Homo sapiens: one gene and its partners. The protein of the gene in region 2 purifies or fractionates together with the protein of the main gene of each other region. This does not show direct contact. Each region holds a gene or a part of one and is shown on either strand. Other genes may lie near its edges.

What was found. Proteins that work in one complex are often made in the same cells at the same time.
Region 1: the proteins of MAN1B1 (region 2) and ASIC4 purify together in Homo sapiens (co-immunoprecipitation; one large-scale study listed by IntAct). This does not show direct contact.
Region 3: the proteins of MAN1B1 (region 2) and CD226 purify together in Homo sapiens (co-immunoprecipitation; one large-scale study listed by IntAct). This does not show direct contact.
Region 4: the proteins of MAN1B1 (region 2) and TMSB10 purify together in Homo sapiens (co-immunoprecipitation; one large-scale study listed by IntAct). This does not show direct contact.

What each region holds. Positions count from the first base shown.
Region 1 is NC_000002.12:219,534,835-219,539,747, reverse strand, and holds the end of ASIC4 (acid-sensing ion channel 4), read right to left. Parts: exon of another isoform or gene 4,578-4,913; coding exon 4,424-4,577; intron 2,683-4,423; coding exon 2,591-2,682; intron 2,507-2,590; coding exon 2,427-2,506; intron 2,117-2,426; coding exon 2,012-2,116; intron 1,816-2,011; coding exon 1,702-1,815; 3' UTR 976-1,701; downstream 1-975. Other genes in the region: CHPF (chondroitin sulfate synthase 2), read left to right, coding at 1-365. UniProt on the Homo sapiens protein: Does not exhibit measurable stand-alone pH-gated sodium channel activity but may form pH-gated heterotrimeric sodium channels. Its activity could also depend on alternative gating mechanisms.
Region 2 is NC_000009.12:137,105,980-137,110,888, forward strand, and holds the end of MAN1B1 (endoplasmic reticulum mannosyl-oligosaccharide 1,2-alpha-mannosidase), read left to right. Parts: intron 1-145; coding exon 146-336; intron 337-709; coding exon 710-830; intron 831-1,270; coding exon 1,271-1,468; intron 1,469-1,551; coding exon 1,552-1,683; coding exon of another isoform or gene 1,684-1,983; exon of another isoform or gene 1,984-2,399; intron 2,400-2,408; coding exon 2,409-2,612; 3' UTR 2,613-3,204; downstream 3,205-4,909. Other genes in the region: DPP7 (dipeptidyl peptidase 2 isoform 1 precursor), read right to left, coding at 4,669-4,804, 4,901-4,909. UniProt on the Homo sapiens protein: Involved in glycoprotein quality control targeting of misfolded glycoproteins for degradation.
Region 3 is NC_000018.10:69,891,108-69,896,020, forward strand, and holds part of CD226 (CD226 antigen isoform a precursor), read right to left. Parts: coding exon 4,594-4,913; intron 1-4,593.
Region 4 is NC_000002.12:84,904,314-84,908,437, reverse strand, and holds TMSB10 (thymosin beta-10), read right to left. Parts: upstream 2,783-4,124; 5' UTR 2,720-2,782; intron 2,436-2,719; 5' UTR 2,421-2,435; coding exon 2,321-2,420; intron 2,050-2,320; coding exon 2,015-2,049; 3' UTR 1,767-2,014; downstream 1-1,766. UniProt on the Homo sapiens protein: Plays an important role in the organization of the cytoskeleton. Binds to and sequesters actin monomers (G actin) and therefore inhibits actin polymerization.

The sequences.
Region 1 (4,913 bases), on a different chromosome or scaffold from region 2:
AAGGGCCTGGGCCCCCAGAGCTGGGCCGTGACACTGGCCGCTTTGATCGCCAGGCAGCCAGCGAGGCCTGCTTCTACAACTCCGACTATGTGGCAGCCCGTGGGCGCCTGGCGGCAGCCTCAGAACAAGAAGAGGAGCTGCTGGAGAGCCTGGATGTGTACGAGCTGTTCCTCCACTTCTCCAGTCTGCATGTGCTGCGGGCGGTGGAGCCGGCGCTGCTGCAGCGCTACCGGGCCCAGACGTGCAGCGCGAGGCTCAGTGAGGACCTGTACCACCGCTGCCTCCAGAGCGTGCTTGAGGGCCTCGGCTCCCGAACCCAGCTGGCCATGCTACTCTTTGAACAGGAGCAGGGCAACAGCACCTGACCCCACCCTGTCCCCGTGGGCCGTGGCATGGCCACACCCCACCCCACTTCTCCCCCAAAACCAGAGCCACCTGCCAGCCTCGCTGGGCAGGGCTGGCCGTAGCCAGACCCCAAGCTGGCCCACTGGTCCCCTCTCTGGCTCTGTGGGTCCCTGGGCTCTGGACAAGCACTGGGGGACGTGCCCCCAGAGCCACCCACTTCTCATCCCAAACCCAGTTTCCCTGCCCCCTGACGCTGCTGATTCGGGCTGTGGCCTCCACGTATTTATGCAGTACAGTCTGCCTGACGCCAGCCCTGCCTCTGGGCCCTGGGGGCTGGGCTGTAGAAGAGTTGTTGGGGAAGGAGGGAGCTGAGGAGGGGGCATCTCCCAACTTCTCCCTTTTGGACCCTGCCGAAGCTCCCTGCCTTTAATAAACTGGCCAAGTGTGGACTTGTGATTCAGAGGTTTTGAAAAGGTAGGCAGGCGTGGGGGAGGGAGGACTGGCTGAGCACCACAGGCTCCCCTGCCCCTGCTGGGGCCTGCCTTTCCTTTCACCCGGGACCAAGTCATGCATGTGCCCAGCCTCACCCCGGCCCCCAGTGCGTGCTTGGTCACACATACACACAGAGAATTCTTTATGCCTCTTTATTCCCAATCTCGTCAGCACTTTATAAAATCAGACTGGAGGGAGAGAGGACTGAGAAGGCTCCCTTCCCACCCTCCAAGCTCAGCCGAAGTCTGGAAGGTCTCCTGCCCCCTCCCTATAGAAGGGACTCTAGGGGTGGGGCTGGTGCAGGGGGAACTGGGAGCTGGGCCAGGCCTGCTGGGCCATCCTCTCCCCCTGCCAAGAGGGGAGCTGGGCCTGGAGAGGGGCAGGAAGTAGGACCAGCCCAGCACTCCTGAGTCCTGGGGCTCTCCCTATCCTGCTGACATTGGGGCTGGGACCCTGGCTGTCCCTAAATCACCCACCCCTGTAGCCCTACCCACCTTCTACATCTGTATCCCCTCCCCCCACCCGGCTTTCCCTAAATATTTACAAATGTACAGAGGGCTCCCCCTCCCCGGCTGGGATGGGCTCTATCCTCCCCCTCCCTCTCCTTCCTTCCCTTCCTCTCCGTGAGGGCCCATGGCCTGGTCTCCAGCCCTCCCGGGGCACCAGCCTGGGGATAAGGGGTGTGGACAAGAAGGACCTTTGTGCAAAGCAGCTGACATCAGGGCAGGGGAGGATGAGAGCAGGAACTGAGTCCTGGCCCTCCCAGTGAGCACCGCCCCCAGGCCTCTCCCAGGAGCAGGAGAATGTGCTGGGGATCCCAGGAGGGGTCCCAGACTCCTGGGTCCTTTCAGTCACAGCACCGTCCTAGCAAGCAAAATCTTCAAAGAGACCTCCTGGGGGACCGTGGGGGTGGTGGTGATTGGGGAGCAGACTGCTGACCCCCCCACCCTCCACTCGGCCCCGGCTCGGGCAGGGACTCTGCAGGAGAAAGAAAAGAGAGAGTGGGACCGGGAGAGCTCAAGTGGTGCCCCCAGGGCTCACACCGCCAGCCTTTCCTTGTCACCTCGGGCAGAGGCTCCAGGGCCCCCTCCACAGGCTGGTTCAGAAACAATGGATGTATTCAGTCCTGGGGAGGTGTGGCTGCATGCTGCAGGCATTTAGAGCTTGTCCTCACCTGTTCCTTCAGCTCCTGAAGCCCCAAAGTGGAGATGCCCCCAGTGGAGGTCCGCAGGGGGGTCTTGGGACGCCTCCATACCCGCTTCAGTCGATCCCAGGACACCTTGGGGTTCAGGGTCGGGGACAGCAGTGGGCTCAGGAAATTTGGTTGAGGAGAAGCGTGAGCCTTACCATGCCCAGCTGCCCACAGGACTTACTGCCACAGCAAACTCCCAGTAGGACACCCTCCTCCTCCTCACCCATCCCCTTCTCCTGACTCTGAGCCCTCAGGCCTGCCAGCCAGTCAGGGGACCCTGGCAGAGAACCCTGAACCTGACTTTCCAGCCAGGCCAGCTCCACCAGGCACCCCGCACTGCCCCCTTCTGCTTTGCCCACGGCCCCCACTCCCACCCTGCCTTCTCCAGGGCCCTTGCCTCATAGATGTAGTCGAGGATCTCCAGCAACGTGAGGATGCTGGCCCCAATGAACAGGCCCATCTGTCCCCCGAGGTCTCCTGGGAAGCAGGAGAGCAGTGTCAGAGGGAGCGGCCGGGCCGATCCACCCCCACACAAGCTGGGGGCAGGGACACCAGTCTCACCCAGCAGGGCTGACAGGCCATAGGCTGCTCGCTGCTCCATGGCTTCAGAGGTCAGGGCCTCAAAGAAGACATCTAGGACCAGGAAGTTCTCCCTGTGGAGACAGGAAGCAGGGTATCCGTGTGGGCCTCTCTTCCTGAGAAGGCTGGCAGGGGCATCCTGGATCCAGCAGATCCTGATCAGAGATCACTACATGGGGAAGTCAGTGACTACCCCCCGGACTCCCCAAGGCTGTGAGGGGAGGCAGTCCCGGATGTGTGTTAGCTTCATCTTTTGAGGGGTAGCAAAGGGCCTGGGAGAGCAAAACACAACTCCTGGACCTGAAGGAAACACTCCTCCCTCCTCTAAAGCAGCCAGTGGTGTTGCCTTTGCCTCCTCCTTACGCCTCTGCGGACCCTTCAGTGACCCCTGTTGCCCGTCAGTCCACTCCACAATGCCCCTTCTCGGTGTCCTGGGCAGCCGGTGGCCTGTCCCCGGCACCTTCCTCCCCAGCCGCCGTCTTTTCTGCTTCCTCCACACAGCTGCCTATGGCTCAGGCTCCCCGCCACACCACCCCACCGCCCCACGTCCTGTCACTGGACGCCTCCCCATTGCCTCCTCTCTCAGACCCCAAACCCAGGGCCCTCAGAGGCCGGCTCACGCCTCCCCAGCTTCACTCCCCGACTGGGGCCTGAGAATCAGTCCTACATGATCAAACGTGGGCTCATTGACAAATTGTGGCATGAGTTTTGTGTCATAATCATCTGTCCCCACAGAACCCAGCACTGAGCCTGGCACCCAGACCACGCTCCACAAGTGTAGACTGGCTGGAGGGGACCAGACCCAAGCCTCAGGGCGGTCCCTCCTGCCTCCCCCTGCAGGGTACTGTGTTCCTCTCCTGTCTCATCCTGTCCCTCTCCCTCCGTGCAGGGAAGAAAGATGCATAAGCAAAGCACTCTGAAATGTGGCATATGTGTAATGACAGAGATCTGTACGGGTGCTGGGAACTCAGATGAAAGGTGTTTGGACCTGGAAGCACTTCCCTGGAGGTGGAGACACTGAACGTGACTTGAGCAATGAGTGGGGCTACTTAGAAGAGAAGGGCTGTGGCCAGGCAAGGTGGCTCACACCTGTAATCCCAGCACTTTGGGAGACCAAGGACGGCAGATCACTTGAGGTCAGGAGTTTAAGACCAGCCTGGCCAACATGGTGAAACCCCATCTCTACTAAAAAGACAAAAATTAGCTGGGTATGGCTGTGGGTGCCTATAATCCCAGCTATTTGGGAGGCTGAGGGAGAAGAATCGCTTGAACCTGGGAGGTCGAGGTTGCAGTGAGCCAAGATTGTGCCACTGCACTCCAGCCTGGGCGACAGAGCAAGACTCTGTCTCAAAAAAAAAAAAAAAAAAGAAGGAGAAGAATAGAGCTATGAAGGGCATTCCCGGTAGAAGACTCATCATAGAGATGCGGCCCACTCCCTGCCTCCACCATGCCCAGCGCCTGTTGAGGGCAGCCTCCACCACACACACACACGCACACAGACCCACACAGACATAGACACATTCTCTCACACACATACCCATTCACAGATACATACACTCATAAGTGTGCATGCACACACACATCACACACTCACACACCCACAAGACACACATACATGCCCCCCACACAGACACACACACACATGCATGTACACACCCACATACACCCCACACACATACACACCCACACCCACATACACACAAACACATACACACATACACTCACACACACGTACACACAGAGTCACACAGCCACCCCCCACACACACGTACACACAGAGTCACACAGCCACCCCCCACACACACACACACATACCGTATGTAGGTCTCGTTGCGGTTGTACTTCCTCGCCAGGTACCGGGCTGAGCCCCTGTTGGGGATCCTGACCATGGAGATCTCTTTCCCATAGCGTGTCAGGTTGCAGGGGGTGGGGCAGAAGCACGGGCCCTCAGGGCCCCCACCCAGGGAGTCTGCAACACAGAGGTAGCAGCTACAGTGGGAGTTGGAGAAGGGTGGTCCAGTGGCCCACCAGCTGCAGAGAGGAGGCCCAGGGGCCGTCCTGAGGCAGGCACACCCACACTGAGGGCCTTTACTGGCCAGCCCCAGTGCTTCCTAGAGGGGACTGGCTGCAGGTCCCCGCCTGAACCAGCTTCAGACTGCTCCAGAGAGCAGATATAAGCAGAACCCCCCAGCACCCTCCCAACCCCCTGGGACTGGGGGGGGGTCCTCGTGGCCCAGAGGGAGAACACAGCCCATCCACCAGAGCTAATCAACTATGTGAGGCCTCAGACACACAAGGAGGTGTG
Region 2 (4,909 bases):
CAGCTGTGGGCTGGGCACAGAGCTCTCTCTGCTGGGAGTCAGTCGGTGCTGGGGCGAGGGGAGGCAGAGCTCACAGAGCCCCTCTACAGCTCACCCTGCAGCTCGGCCCTGGCCAGTAAACCCACCATCCCCCTTTCTGCCGCAGGAGGCAGTGGAGAAGGTGACACAGCACATCCACGGCCTGTCTGGGAAGAAGGATGGGCTGGTGCCCATGTTCATCAATACCCACAGTGGCCTCTTCACCCACCTGGGCGTATTCACGCTGGGCGCCAGGGCCGACAGCTACTATGAGTACCTGCTGAAGCAGTGGATCCAGGGCGGGAAGCAGGAGACACAGTGAGGCCCGGCCCGCTGCCCCCAGCTCCCGCGGCTCCCCCGTTCCCGCAGCCCCCCACTCCTGCTGCCCCCAGCTCCCACGGCCCCCGCTCCTGCTGCCCCCCGCCACACTGTGTGTCAGGAAACCGCAGCCGTGCCAGGCCTGGCCCAGGCATTTATGTGGAGGGCGTATTCATTCACCTCTCACCGTGGCCTCTGGGGGGGTGAGGGGGGCATCTTCACTGAGGGCCATGGGCTGTGCAGGGTGGCACCTTCTGTCCGGCAAGGGCCAGGCCTGCTGTACTTGTGTGGGCCCAGGATGTGCCTGTCCCTGGTGCCCCACGGGAGCCGATGCACCGTCCTGGTAGAGTGAGATGACTGCTGGTGTCCACAGGCTGCTGGAAGACTACGTGGAAGCCATCGAGGGTGTCAGAACGCACCTGCTGCGGCACTCCGAGCCCAGTAAGCTCACCTTTGTGGGGGAGCTTGCCCACGGCCGCTTCAGTGCCAAGATGGTGAGTGTGTCTGCGGGGCCTTCCGGCCGCCGCCCCTTTTACCTTGGCTTCCAAGGTGCCTGAGTCATGATGTCAAAAAGAACGAAATCCTGGCCATGGCGCCCACGTGGAGGCCCTGGGTGGACCGTGGCTGCCTGGCCAGGCCTGTCTTGGCAACAGGGCAGTAAGGCCTTGTGTGGCACCTGGGGTGGGCAGGGCTTCCCCAGGGCAGCTCCCTCCCCGTGCCCGGTGTGTAGCAGGTCCTCGGGCGGTGTGTGGGGGCCGGGTTGGAGGGCCTGGTCCAGGCAGCTCCGCTGTTCCATGCCAAGTGCCCTCGCGTGGCCTCCCCTCCCAGGGTACCAGGGCCGAGGCAGCGCTGGGCTCCCACGTTGGCTGCCCGTGCAGCTGCAGGCTGAGGGCAGGGCCTGGGATCTGGGGCTGAAGAGACCCTCTGATTCCAGGACCACCTGGTGTGCTTCCTGCCAGGGACGCTGGCTCTGGGCGTCTACCACGGCCTGCCCGCCAGCCACATGGAGCTGGCCCAGGAGCTCATGGAGACTTGTTACCAGATGAACCGGCAGATGGAGACGGGGCTGAGTCCCGAGATCGTGCACTTCAACCTTTACCCCCAGCCGGGCCGTCGGGACGTGGAGGTCAAGGTGGGCCTGGGCCTGGGTCAGGGTCCATCAGGAGGAGGGTGCTGGCAGGGCTGGCCTTGCCCTGAGCTCTGCTCCGCCCACAGCCAGCAGACAGGCACAACCTGCTGCGGCCAGAGACCGTGGAGAGCCTGTTCTACCTGTACCGCGTCACAGGGGACCGCAAATACCAGGACTGGGGCTGGGAGATTCTGCAGAGCTTCAGCCGATTCACACGGGTGAGCACCTGTCCTCGCCCCGCGTGGTCACGGCCACCGGGCCACAGGCACGGCTGGGCTGTGGGGCTCAGGCTGGCTCCGCTCTTGGTGGTGGCTGTGACCTGGATCCGGGAGGGGCGGGCTTGCCGCAGCCTCGGGGTGGCCACACTGCAGCTTGGGGGCCCTGGCATCCCCATCCCCACTGAGCTTCATGGTTGTGGGACCCAGAGTACTTGGAGGGGCTGGGCACCCCTCATTTTCATTTCTCAGGGCCTGTCTAGGGAGGGTCTCTGCTGTGGGCCCAGCATCCCCCCAGTTTAGGAGGCACACGCACCCATGACTGGGGCACCATCCCCACTGTGGACCAGGCCCTGTTTTAGGTCACGCCCTCCACGCCAGAGTGTCACTTCCTGGCTCTGCTGTGATCTTGGCCTGAGGCCCCCGCTGCCTCCGCTCCCACCGTCTGCCCTGTGCCCTGTGCCCTGTGCGGCAACTGTGAGGCCCCCTGAGCCCAGGTTCTGGGGGAGGCGGTTTCTGTCGTGGTCACTTGAGGGTTGTTGGCATTTCCAGGTGGGCTCCGGTGGAACCACACGGCTCGCCTGGGGGTGGCCATCATCCAGGCGCCCTCCACCCTGAGCTTGCGCTGGGGGCCACATTCACCATGGGGTGGAGAGCGCTTCGGTGATGAGGCTGAGGGGGGTGCAGGGTGCCCCCCGTGTGGTGACGAGGCCCTGGCTGCTGCACAGGTCCCCTCGGGTGGCTATTCTTCCATCAACAATGTCCAGGATCCTCAGAAGCCCGAGCCTAGGGACAAGATGGAGAGCTTCTTCCTGGGGGAGACGCTCAAGTATCTGTTCTTGCTCTTCTCCGATGACCCAAACCTGCTCAGCCTGGATGCCTACGTGTTCAACACCGAAGCCCACCCTCTGCCTATCTGGACCCCTGCCTAGGGTGGATGGCTGCTGGTGTGGGGACTTCGGGTGGGCAGAGGCACCTTGCTGGGTCTGTGGCATTTTCCAAGGGCCCACGTAGCACCGGCAACCGCCAAGTGGCCCAGGCTCTGAACTGGCTCTGGGCTCCTCCTCGTCTCTGCTTTAATCAGGACACCGTGAGGACAAGTGAGGCCGTCAGTCTTGGTGTGATGCGGGGTGGGCTGGGCCGCTGGAGCCTCCGCCTGCTTCCTCCAGAAGACACGAATCATGACTCACGATTGCTGAAGCCTGAGCAGGTCTCTGTGGGCCGACCAGAGGGGGGCTTCGAGGTGGTCCCTGGTACTGGGGTGACCGAGTGGACAGCCCAGGGTGCAGCTCTGCCCGGGCTCGTGAAGCCTCAGATGTCCCCAATCCAAGGGTCTGGAGGGGCTGCCGTGACTCCAGAGGCCTGAGGCTCCAGGGCTGGCTCTGGTGTTTACAAGCTGGACTCAGGGATCCTCCTGGCCGCCCCGCAGGGGGCTTGGAGGGCTGGACGGCAAGTCCGTCTAGCTCACGGGCCCCTCCAGTGGAATGGGTCTTTTCGGTGGAGATAAAAGTTGATTTGCTCTAACCGCGATGTCGCCTGTGTCTTTAGGGATCTCCATGACTGGAAAGTCTGGGCGGACGTTGGGGAGAAGGTATTCTTCAAGTCACGTCTCAGAATTCGGTTTGCTGAGACTGGACTCTAGCTGTCCCCTGCTGGTGGGCAGGGAGAGGCCACGGGGAAGCTCCGTGTCCCTGGCCCCACGGGGCAGATGCTTGGCGGGAGGCATCCTTGCGCCTGCGTTTCACACAGGGCCTGTTTCCCTGCAGGGCTGGCACTGAGGCGCACAGCTGAGGGATACACGGGCCCTCAGGTCAGGCAGCTCCCAGCAGCCTGGCATGGCTATGGCCCCGAGCCCTGGGCTGTGGTGGCAGAGTTGTCCTCATCATCACTCTACTGCTGTCCCTATCCCAGGGCTGACCCTGGGCCTTGGCTGGGTTCCCCCCGACCCTGAACCAGGTGACCTCTTAGGACCACGCCCCCTCGCTCTCCCCTGTGAAAAATCCATCACCTTCACTTCCGGAAGACTCCCCTTCCCTGGGAAGCCAGAGCCGGTGGCGGCACAGGGCAGGGCTACCCGGACCCAGCCCAGGATTGCCAGCTCCGCCCCTCGGGACGTCCGGGCCCCGAGTGTGGGCCTCGGCTCTGCCTGTCCCCACAACCCCCAACATCCCACAGCAGCCACCTGTGTCCCTCTGGGGACAGTGGGCACCCTGGGGCTTCGTCTCCCACTTCATGCTGGGCCCTGATCCTGCACTCCACCCTCTGTGCCTGGAAAGGTGAGAACATCGGCTGTCATGTGACCCTGGCGCCTGCCCCTTGTCACGGTGGGCCCAGCACGGCCCTAGCCTGCCCCTTGTCAGTACCACCCTAGCCCGCCCCTTGTCACGGTGGGCCCAGTGCTGCCCTCCTGGACCAGGTGCCCCATGGCCGGCTGAACGGGCAGGACTAGGGCAGCAGGTGGGGCCTCAACAGCCGGAAAAGGTGCACCTTCTCCATCTCACCCAGACCTCCGAGACTAACGTGCTGGGGGCGTGGTCCCAGAGGGTGGAGGGACAGCAACTGCATGCCCCTTGGGGGCCAAAAGCACTGTCCAGTGGCCTCCCCTGGAGGGGTCGCTGTGTACAGAGGATGTCAGGGAAGGAGTCACCTTGGAGGTGTGGCTGCAGCCTCTGTCTGCTGCGGCTCAGCAGAGCGGGGCTTCCTTGCGGGGCACTGCCCCCCGCTGCCCTAAGGAGCAGACCTGAGCGTTGTGGAGCCTCTACCTTGTGGAGCACATGGCATACCCGGCCTGTGTGGGGTGCGCCGCGTCCCCAGCCGTGTCTCCGAGGGTCCCGCTCCCACAGCCTGCGTGTGGGCCCCACAGACAGGAAGGACGGGACATACATGGCCAGGCCTCCAGGCGTTTATTCAGCCCCTTCCCTCTGCCGCCAGCTGCTTGAGTGAAGCCCCCACTCCATGAGGAGCCTTGAGACCCCTCCAGTCCTGTGCTCAGAGGCTGAGTCTGGGCCCCCCACGCAGAGCTGGCTGCTGCTCACGCCTGGCTGCCTTTACCCACTCGCCGATGATGGTGGCCTCCAGCTTCCGCGCCTCAACCACGGAAGCAGGATCTTCTGGGTGGGAGGCTCTGGGGAGCGGGCACAGAGGGGGCCCGTCAGCCCCAGCCCTCGGTGAGCCTGTCCCGCCCGACCCGCGACCACCGCCAGGCCACCTCCCTCCGCACCTGAGGTCG
Region 3 (4,913 bases), on a different chromosome or scaffold from region 2:
CACATTAAATGGATTGTATATTCTAATCAATTCTGATTTATCCCTGGCATGCAAAGATGGTTCAACATATGTAAATCAATCAATGTAATACACCACATTAACAAAGTGATATAAAAAGGCCACATGATCATCAAAATAGAGCATAAAAAGCATTTGACAAATTCAACATCCTTGTGTGATTAAAAAAAAAAAACTCTCAACAAATTAGGTACAGAAAGAATTTACCCCAACACAATAAAGGCCATCTATGAAAAGCCCACAGCTAACATCATACCAAGTCATGTAAGACTGAGAACTTTTGCTCTAAGATCAGGAAAAAGACAAAGGTGGCCACTTTCAACACCTCTGCTTAACATAGTACAAGAAGTCTTAATCAGAGCCATTAAACAAGAAAAAGAAAACAAAAGGCATTCAAATCAGAAAGGAAGAAGTAATATTATCTCTGTTTGCCGATGACATAATCATATATGTATAAAACCCTAAAAGTGCCACAAAAAAACCTGTTCAAACTAATAAATGAATTCAGTTAAGAGGCAGGATACAAAAATCAACATATAAAATATCAGTCAGGTTTCTGTACACAAACAGCAAACTATCCAAAAAAGGAATTAAAACAAAATCCCATCCCCAATAACAATAAAAGGAATAAAGTATTTAAGAATAAACTTAACCAAAAATGTTAAAGACTTGCACACTGAAAATCATATAGCAACTTATTCTTTCATGATTATTGTTTTGCCATCTTTGCTCAAGAACTAATGGTAGCTTTGCTTGACAATTATATGAGATGCAGGTTTTCACTGTCATCACTTAATTTAACCTACCTCGTCCCATATTAATACATAACTTAGACTCTCCATACCAACCTAGTCATTTGACTACAGTCTCCCATGCACCATCTCCCCATTCCTCCTGCATATTTGGGGTTACTCTTCATAACCTGTTTCATGTCATTCCTCAGCTCTAATCATCAATGCCTCATTTGAACCTTGATGGTCCCGCCTGAGTGGTCTCACTGGTGGAAGACGATTATACAAGGACATGAGTAATTATACTTATCAATAGCAAACAGAAGTTTTTTCAATATTAGCCTCCTCCAGAAACTTTCTGCAAGAGCTGATTTTATTTCTTTTGCCTTCATTCTTTTTATAGCCAATAAGGTCAGTTTAAACAATAGTAGTCTGCAAATCATTTAGCTAATATTAAAATATTTGACAAATTATTTTAGTGGCACCTAAAATACTTCTCTTATGACAAATGAAAATCCAGAGGATGTTAAGGGCCAAAAATAACTGTAGTCACTGTCAATAAACAGACATTCCCCTGTGCTCCCCCCGTCCCCACTTTCCTTGCCCTTCGGTCCAGGCAAGTTTCAAATTCAGAAAAGTCAGTCTGGAATTATTTCATTCTACATTTCAGGACATAAGTGCAAAGGACAAGAGAAATGTATTTCTTTTCACTCAGCAAAGAAAGTCAGTGGTAAATGTGAGTTCAGTTCTTGCTTCTGCCATTTTCTCCTCTGTTCAAAACCAATCAAGGCCTGGATACTTGACCTGCTGGTTGGCAGGGGTCCTCTGTTGAGTGACCTGGTACTTGTCTGAAGATGAATGCAGGCAGGTAGGAGTCAGGGGAAGAGCCCCTCTCTGTGTGTGTGTCCGTGTCTGTGTGTGCATGTGTGTGTGTGTGTATGAATATGAGAGTCCTAAAAATCTCTCTTTTAGATCCAATACTATGTGCTATAAAAGAAGTCATTGAGAACTAACAAAAGTATGTACAGCAATTTATAAAATCTGCCACAATCACCTTTCCCTTGGCAGTTGAAATAAATTAAATCTGTCCCACATCTTATATCTGTCTCTCTGCTTTAATCTCCACATTGATTTTTGACCAAAGAGCCTCAAGACGTGAAATAATCAAATTGCACCAGAGAAAACACAAATGATCTGTTTTGCTTTGCATCTAAGTTTTATATTCAATCTTTCACTTATAAAAATTGAAAAAAGGAATTAAACTGAAACATACAGTCAATGGCTGTCATCTTCTGTCAATGATAACTTTTTACTAATGGATACAAGGTCCAGTTGACATTCTTTCAATCTGTCAACTGAATGTCAAAAAGCCATTTGCAACTGTTCAAAACACATGGACACTAACACTACTGACCATTACATTTAGTCATCTTCATTTCATTGGCAGAGTTTGACGCTGTTTATAATTTACATACAAAGAAATAGTTTTGTGCAAGAAACTTAGTCATCTTTGGACAGATGAATGACATTTTTATTAATTAATAAGAGTTAAATAACCATATCTCCTAAAAATCTGTTACCTTCATTTTCTCTATAATTTAAGATGTTTACAATTACTTTTTCAGCATATAATGGGCAAAATCTTATACGTGTTTGAAAATGATTCTTTATGACACTTTTCTGAATAGAACATTTTTTTCTTGCCTTGGTCTCTAATCTGTTTTCACTGTTTCTTTTTCCTGACCAGTTTCAAAAAATACTTCCATAATGCAAGGGATTTTTAGGTAAGAAGTTCTTTTTGTCTGTGTCTGAAGGAACAGAGTCAACATTTAAAATGAGGAGTCTCTGCTAATTTTTCCTCCCCCAAATATTTCACCAACCACTCATCATTTTCATTAAATTCTAAGTCCAATGTATGTCTCACCACAGTTCCTAGAGGAACAAGGGAGGCTTGATGTGGTCCAAGGTGATTGTGTATGAAAAGATGTTATTCCCTGAAAATGCTCTCCTTATTATACACAGAGCTATAGTGGAAGCTTCTGTTTATACAAGACCTTTTCTTCTTCATTTTCAACACAGGAAGAAATATCAGTTTGCAATATGAGCAAAGTCTATAAAGGGACAGCCAAAGCCTAGCAAGCGTTGGCTCTACAAGTCTAACATAAGTCAAAGGTAAATTAGCTGGCTGAAAGCATGTGGAAGGGAGAAGGGAAGGAAGAAAAGAAAAGGGAATGGAACAGAGTGAAAGAAGGAAGGAAGGGAAGGAAAGATGGAAGAGAGTGAGGGAGAAAGGGAGGGAGGGAACTGTAATACAGGCCTCTACACAGAACTCTATATGGACCTCTATATTTGTACTTCTGTAAATAAAAAAAAAATCACTTTTTCTCACAATCATACAAAGTGGATCTAGGTTTTGTGGGGGCTGGAATCTTACACAATTTAAGGATTCATTGTGACAAAAGAGACAAATGCCTAATACACAAATAGTGCAGTGCTTTGGAAGGGGCCTGCTCAAGTGGGAGGAAGGAAGGAAGGAAGGAAGGAAGGAAGGAAGGAAGGAAGGAAGGGAGGGAGGGAGGGAGGGAAGGGAGGGGAGGGGAGGGGAGGGAAGGGAAGGGAGGGGAGAGAAGGGAAGGGAGGGGAGGGGAGAGAAAGGAGGGGAGGGGAGGGGAGAGACAGGAGGGGAGGGGAGGGGAGGGGGGGGAGGGAAGGGGAGGGAGATGGGGAGGGGGAGGGCAGGGGAGGGGGAAGGTAGGGGAGGGAAGGAAGGGGAGGGGAGGAGGGGAGGGGAGGGAGGAAGGAAAGGAAGAAGGGAGAACAAAGTGAAAGGTAAAAATAAATTATTTTCTCTTCCGTGTCCCGACAGTGAGGAAGCTGGCCCAGAGGCAGAGCTGGGAGAGCCTGGGATGGCCTTCCTCTCTCTCAACTGTAATGCAGGCCTCTACACAGACCTCTATATGGGCCTCTCTATATTAGCACTTCTGTAAGTGAAAGAAATTACTTTTTCTCATACTCATGCAAAGTGGATCTAGGTTTTGCAGGTCCTGAAACACAATGAAAGGCTTCATTGTGACAAAAAAAAGACAAATGCCTAATATACAAATAGTGTGGTGCCTTGGAGGAGGCCTTGGAGGAGGTGGAAGCCCCAAAGGCCAATTTCACCAGCACAAAGATTATACTCAGTAATGGTCACCAAAGATCTAAGTCAGTGGTTCTTATAGTATGTTTGGGGGTCCCTGAGGATCCCTGTGTCCCTTTTGGGGATCTGCAAGGTCAAACCTATTTTCCTAGTAATATTAAGATGCAACATCAGTCTGTTTCTGCATCCACATCTGAAAAAGACTGAGAGAAAAAAAGGCTCCTGTCTGGCAAACTGGCAACCGCATTCTCAAACACCTGCTGAAATGCACTCAACGCAGCCCTGCTTCAGCCATATCAACCTAGCACTGTCTTGTATTGCTGGGGTATGTGGGGATTCTAACACCTTATCACCACCATCAAAAATATTCATGTAATTGGGAAGATAGGAGTTCTACAGCTGAAACCTGAAGGCTGGTAATACCATATGTTTTTCAGCCCTTTACGAATTTCTTTTTTAAGCTTCAGGATGGTGGCAGATAAGAAAATTGGAAAGATTTTTATTGCTGTATCTGATTGATGGATTCACAAGATAAAGAAACCCTCAATACTAGAATAATGGCCAACTCACCTAAATTCAGCCATTTAAAAAAATGCTGAATATGCGCATTAAATGAACATGTTTACCATAAATAAAAACAGAGACCAGCCCACGGGGCTGGCTTTTTCCATGTTTGATACCAGAAGATGTCTGGTGCTCACTCACCCTCGGCTACAGTCAATCTCATCACGAAGGTTTCGTTTTCTCCTGCGCTGGCCTGCAAGTAGCAGCGGTAAAGCCCCGAGTCTGAGACTGTGACATCGGGGATGACGATGACGCTCCACCTTCCGTGGCTGCAGTTGCTCACTATTTGTCTTGGGAACTTGGAGGTGAAATTTCTGCCATGGACCAAGTTGCAGTAAGTTAAGAGGTCGATCTGACGGGGCTGGATCTTTTCCCACCTCACTGCCTGCACAGGCCACGTCATCTGAGGCTGACAAGTGAGTGTGACATTCTTTCCAGGTTCCGAAACAATGTGGCTATTT
Region 4 (4,124 bases), on a different chromosome or scaffold from region 2:
AATAGAACCAACAAGACAGTGGGGGAGGAGGGCTGGTAGCAGCTTGGCTTTAGCATAGCCAAGTTGGAGCAGGCGAGGCCATATGATACTTCAGTTACAATTCAGTGAGCACTTATGAGTGTCTACTAAGTGCTGACTACTGTGAGAGTCACCAATATCAATTAATAAGAATCTTTCAGCCGGGCATGGTGGCTCACGCCTGTAATCCCAGCACTTTGAGAGGCTGAGACGGGTGGATCACCAGAGGTCAGGAGTTCAAGACCAGCCTGGCTAACATGGCGAAACCCCGTCTCTACTAAAAATACAAAATTAGCCGGGCGTGGTGGTGCATGCCTGTAATCCCAGCTACTCAGGAGGCTGAGGCAGGAGAACTCGGGAGGCGGAGGTGTGGAAGTTGTGGTGAGCTGAGATTGCACCATTGCACTCCAGCCTGGGCAACAAGAGCGAAACTCCATTTCAAAAAAAAAAAAAAAAAAAAAAACAACAACCAAAAAGTTAGCCAGGCGTGGTGGCTCATGCCTGTAATCCCAGCTACTGGGGAGGCTGAGGCAGGAAAATCGCTTGTACCCGGGAGGCGGAGGCAGTGAGCCGAGATCGCACCATTGCAGTCCAGTCTGGGAGACAAGAGCGAAACTCCGTCTCAAAAAAAAAAAAAAAAAAAAAGTCTCTCTATTTACTCTAATGGGGGAGGTGATGTATGTGTCCAGGTACCAGGAGGGAGGTGCAGATAGGAGTTCAGAGAGAATGCCTTTGGGCATGAGTCTCCCTGCCAAGCCTAGGTGTCCTGACTCTGGTCTGCTGTGGCTATCTCACTCACCAGATTTTAAATTCCTCGTGGACAGGGACCGTATCTTATTCGAATTAACTGTCTTCACCCAGTGCCCAGCCTCTTGGGGCCGGGCAAAAATGTGGGACGAATCTCTAAGCAGTGTCCTATCCACCTTCCTTAAAGAAAACTCCACCCCTGTCTTTATAAGCCTGTTTCTTCTGCTTCTGAATGGCCTGCAGCCCCAGGTTCCCAACTGTCAGGCCCCCTTGGGCTGGTCCTATTCCTTCCCTGTGGGTTTGAGGTGTCATCCCTTGGAGCTTGGCCGCCAGCGCCAGCGCCAGCCCACCCTTCCTCCCTCCCACCACATCCCCACCCTTCCTGCTGAGCACTGGGTGGTAGCAGATCAGTCTAGCACTTCCTCTAATGGCTAATGTTTTTGTGGGAGGTTCTGAACTAGGGTTAAAAGACAAAAGCTCTTCCCCCCTCCCCTCCCCCAGTTCTAGTGTTGGTTCTTCTAGTTCTGACGTTCCCGTTGCTGTATCCCTAGATCCCGCCTTTGTTTTAAGCTCCCGAAGAAAGGCTTCCGGAGACTTTGTGACCTCACCCAATTTCCAACATTCCAGATTGTCTTTTCTTTCTTTAAAATCAGTGTTCCCTTCTGAGTCAGCTAGGAGGAGGCCAGAGGGAAACAGTGGGGCTTTCGAAGCTTATCAAAAGCAAACCTTGCTCTTTTGAAAAAGCATTTTCCAACGCAACCTGGGGACAAAGTGGGGTTAAATTTTACACAGATTGCTTACGAGCAAGAGTTAAGTGGCTAACAAGTCATGAAATCTTACGGAGAAGCAGGTAAAGCCAAAATTAAAAACTCCCTCCGAGTCAGCCCATTCTGCGACCCACCTCCTCCCCTTTGCGGCAGGAACTCTACTCCATCGAGGGGCTTTGCTGCAGTGGCACTGCCCACGCATACTCAACTAAAAGACTCAGACCACGCCAGCCATGCCACGAGGTGTGTTTTATTTTCATTATTCATACAAATAATTTTCTATAATATCCCGGGGCAAACCGGAGAATTTGGCAGTCCGATTGGGGGGGGGTCCCTTCAGAGACCCACAGGCCGGTGGCATCGGCGCGGAGTGCCCAGGTTCACAGTGCAGCTTGTGGCTCGTGTCCATCTTGCAGGTGGCTCTTCCTCCACATCACGACTGGGGTCTCGAAGAGGACGGGGGTAGGAAATCCTCCAGGATCTTAGGAAATTTCACTCCGCTTCTCCTGCTCAATGGCTGTGGAGAGCGGGAAGCGGGCGCTGGAGGGGAGCTGCAACCCCCACCCGCAACCGAGGTGCTTCCCGGTGTGGGCGAGGCACCCACGAGGTGTGGGGATTTAGAAGGAAGCTTGGGGCTGGGGAGAAACAAGGCGCTTTGTGAAACTGAAAGAGTGGCCGGGGCCGCCCACACCGGGGACAACGGCGGGGTGGGGGGTGGAGGAGTGGGTTTGCAAGGAAGAGCAGGGTGAGGGGCTGGGCTGGGGCGCGGGAGACCGAGGCACACTCACTCTCTTTGGTCGGCAGGGTGTTCTTCTCCTGCGTCTCCGTTTTCTTCAGCTTGGCCTTATCGAAGCTGGCGATTTCCCCCATGTCTGGTTTGTCTGCCATTTTCTTAAAACAATCCTAGTGGGCAAACCAAGGCGCTTGACCTGGGCCTGGGGGCCAGCGTCCCCTTCCGCGCTCCCCGCCGACGCCTCTCGACGTGGCACTCGCGCCAAGGCGTGCCGAGCAGCCCCAAGGCCGAGGATCTGGGCGCGTCCCGCACCCCTCTTCTCGGTCCCAGGGCGTGGTCGCCGGCCCCTGCGTCCGGTCCGAGAAGGGCGCCTGTCGCGGTTGCGGCGCGCCCGCCCGGTGCACCGGATCCGACCACACCCTGGGTGGGCCCCCCGCCCCGGCGCCGCACTCACCGTGCAGTCTCGTTCCGAGCCCGAGATCCTGGTGCTCCCACTCGCGTTGCTGCAGCAAGAAACAAAAGAGCGGCGCCCGCCCCTAGCCTTATATACGCCGCGCCCCGCCCCGCCCCTCACCCGCCGCAGCAGGGGCGGTGCTGGCACCCGAGGGGCGGGAGCAGCGCGGGCTGCTCCTCGCCCTGCCGCGCCCCCCGCTGGGCTACCAGCCCGGCTGGGCGCGGCTTCTCCCGCGCCGGGCACCCCCAGCTCGCAGTGTGCCCAGCGTGGGGGCTGTAGTCGCCGCCAGAGTGGGCGCCAGGCCCCCGGCTTTGCTTTTGCGGCTACATTTCCCCCTTTCCGGGAATCTGCTGCTCACCCCGCAGAAAGGATATGGGACCGGCGTGGGAGGGTGTGTGGTTTTGTGCGTGTGCAGATATGATGTGTAGCCGTGGGTGTGGATGTGCGGGCGTGCACGCGCACTCTGCAGCAATCCTCGCTCTAGGAGACGCCCCACCCCAGTCGCCCCCAGGCCTCTTGCTTTTGCTCCTCCAGAGTCCCCTTCCCTCCCCCACTTTTCCTCTCCTTAGGGAGGCTGAGTCCTAAGGTGGTCCTGCACTAAAAGAATTCGAGCCGAGGGTCCCGTAGTGGAGCGGGGGGCGGGGGGGTGTAGGGGGAGGGGGGAATAGGTTTCCAGCGCTCTTTGCTCAGGTTGGGGGCGGTTGCCTTCTGGTCAGTCGTCCCCTGTTCCCTGAACTGGGCGGTTCCAGCAGGATCGTTGGCGTGGCGGGTGTTCCTTAAATGCTGTTAGACGCATTGTGTGAAGGGCTGTGGTGGGAACAGGGCGTCCCGAGAAGGCTCGCAGTTTGCCTTTTCTCGTCGAGCTCCTAGAAACACTGTATCAGCGGGTGCGGTTTTCCTCCTTGAAGTTAACCTTGAGGATAATAGAGACCCACATGCCTACAAACGTTCTTGTTTTTCTTATTAACCCATTGTAGGAGTGGTATACTGCAATTATTCACATCTTTCTTAGAAAAGTTGTATTTTCAGCCTGTGCAACACCGTTAGGTAATAAGTTCCATAAATTACCAGCCCCGGAGTTAAGGCTGGTCATTCTTTTATTTGTCCTGACCTTTCCTTTTTTAAGTGTGAAGTATTACCGAGCTCTTTAAAGTGGGATTTGGTGGTGACATCCTAAATTCGGTCCTGATTTTATTTATTTACTTTTTTTGAGACAGGGTCTCACTCTGTCACCCAGGCTGGAGTGCAGTGGTGTGATCACGGCTTATGGCAGCCTGGACTTCCCCGGTTCAAGTGATTCTTCCACCTCAGCCTCCTGAGCAGTTGGGACTGCGGGCGTGCACCACCACTAGCGGCAAATCTTTTGTGTTCTTTTTGTAGAGACGAGATTTCACCATGTTGCCCA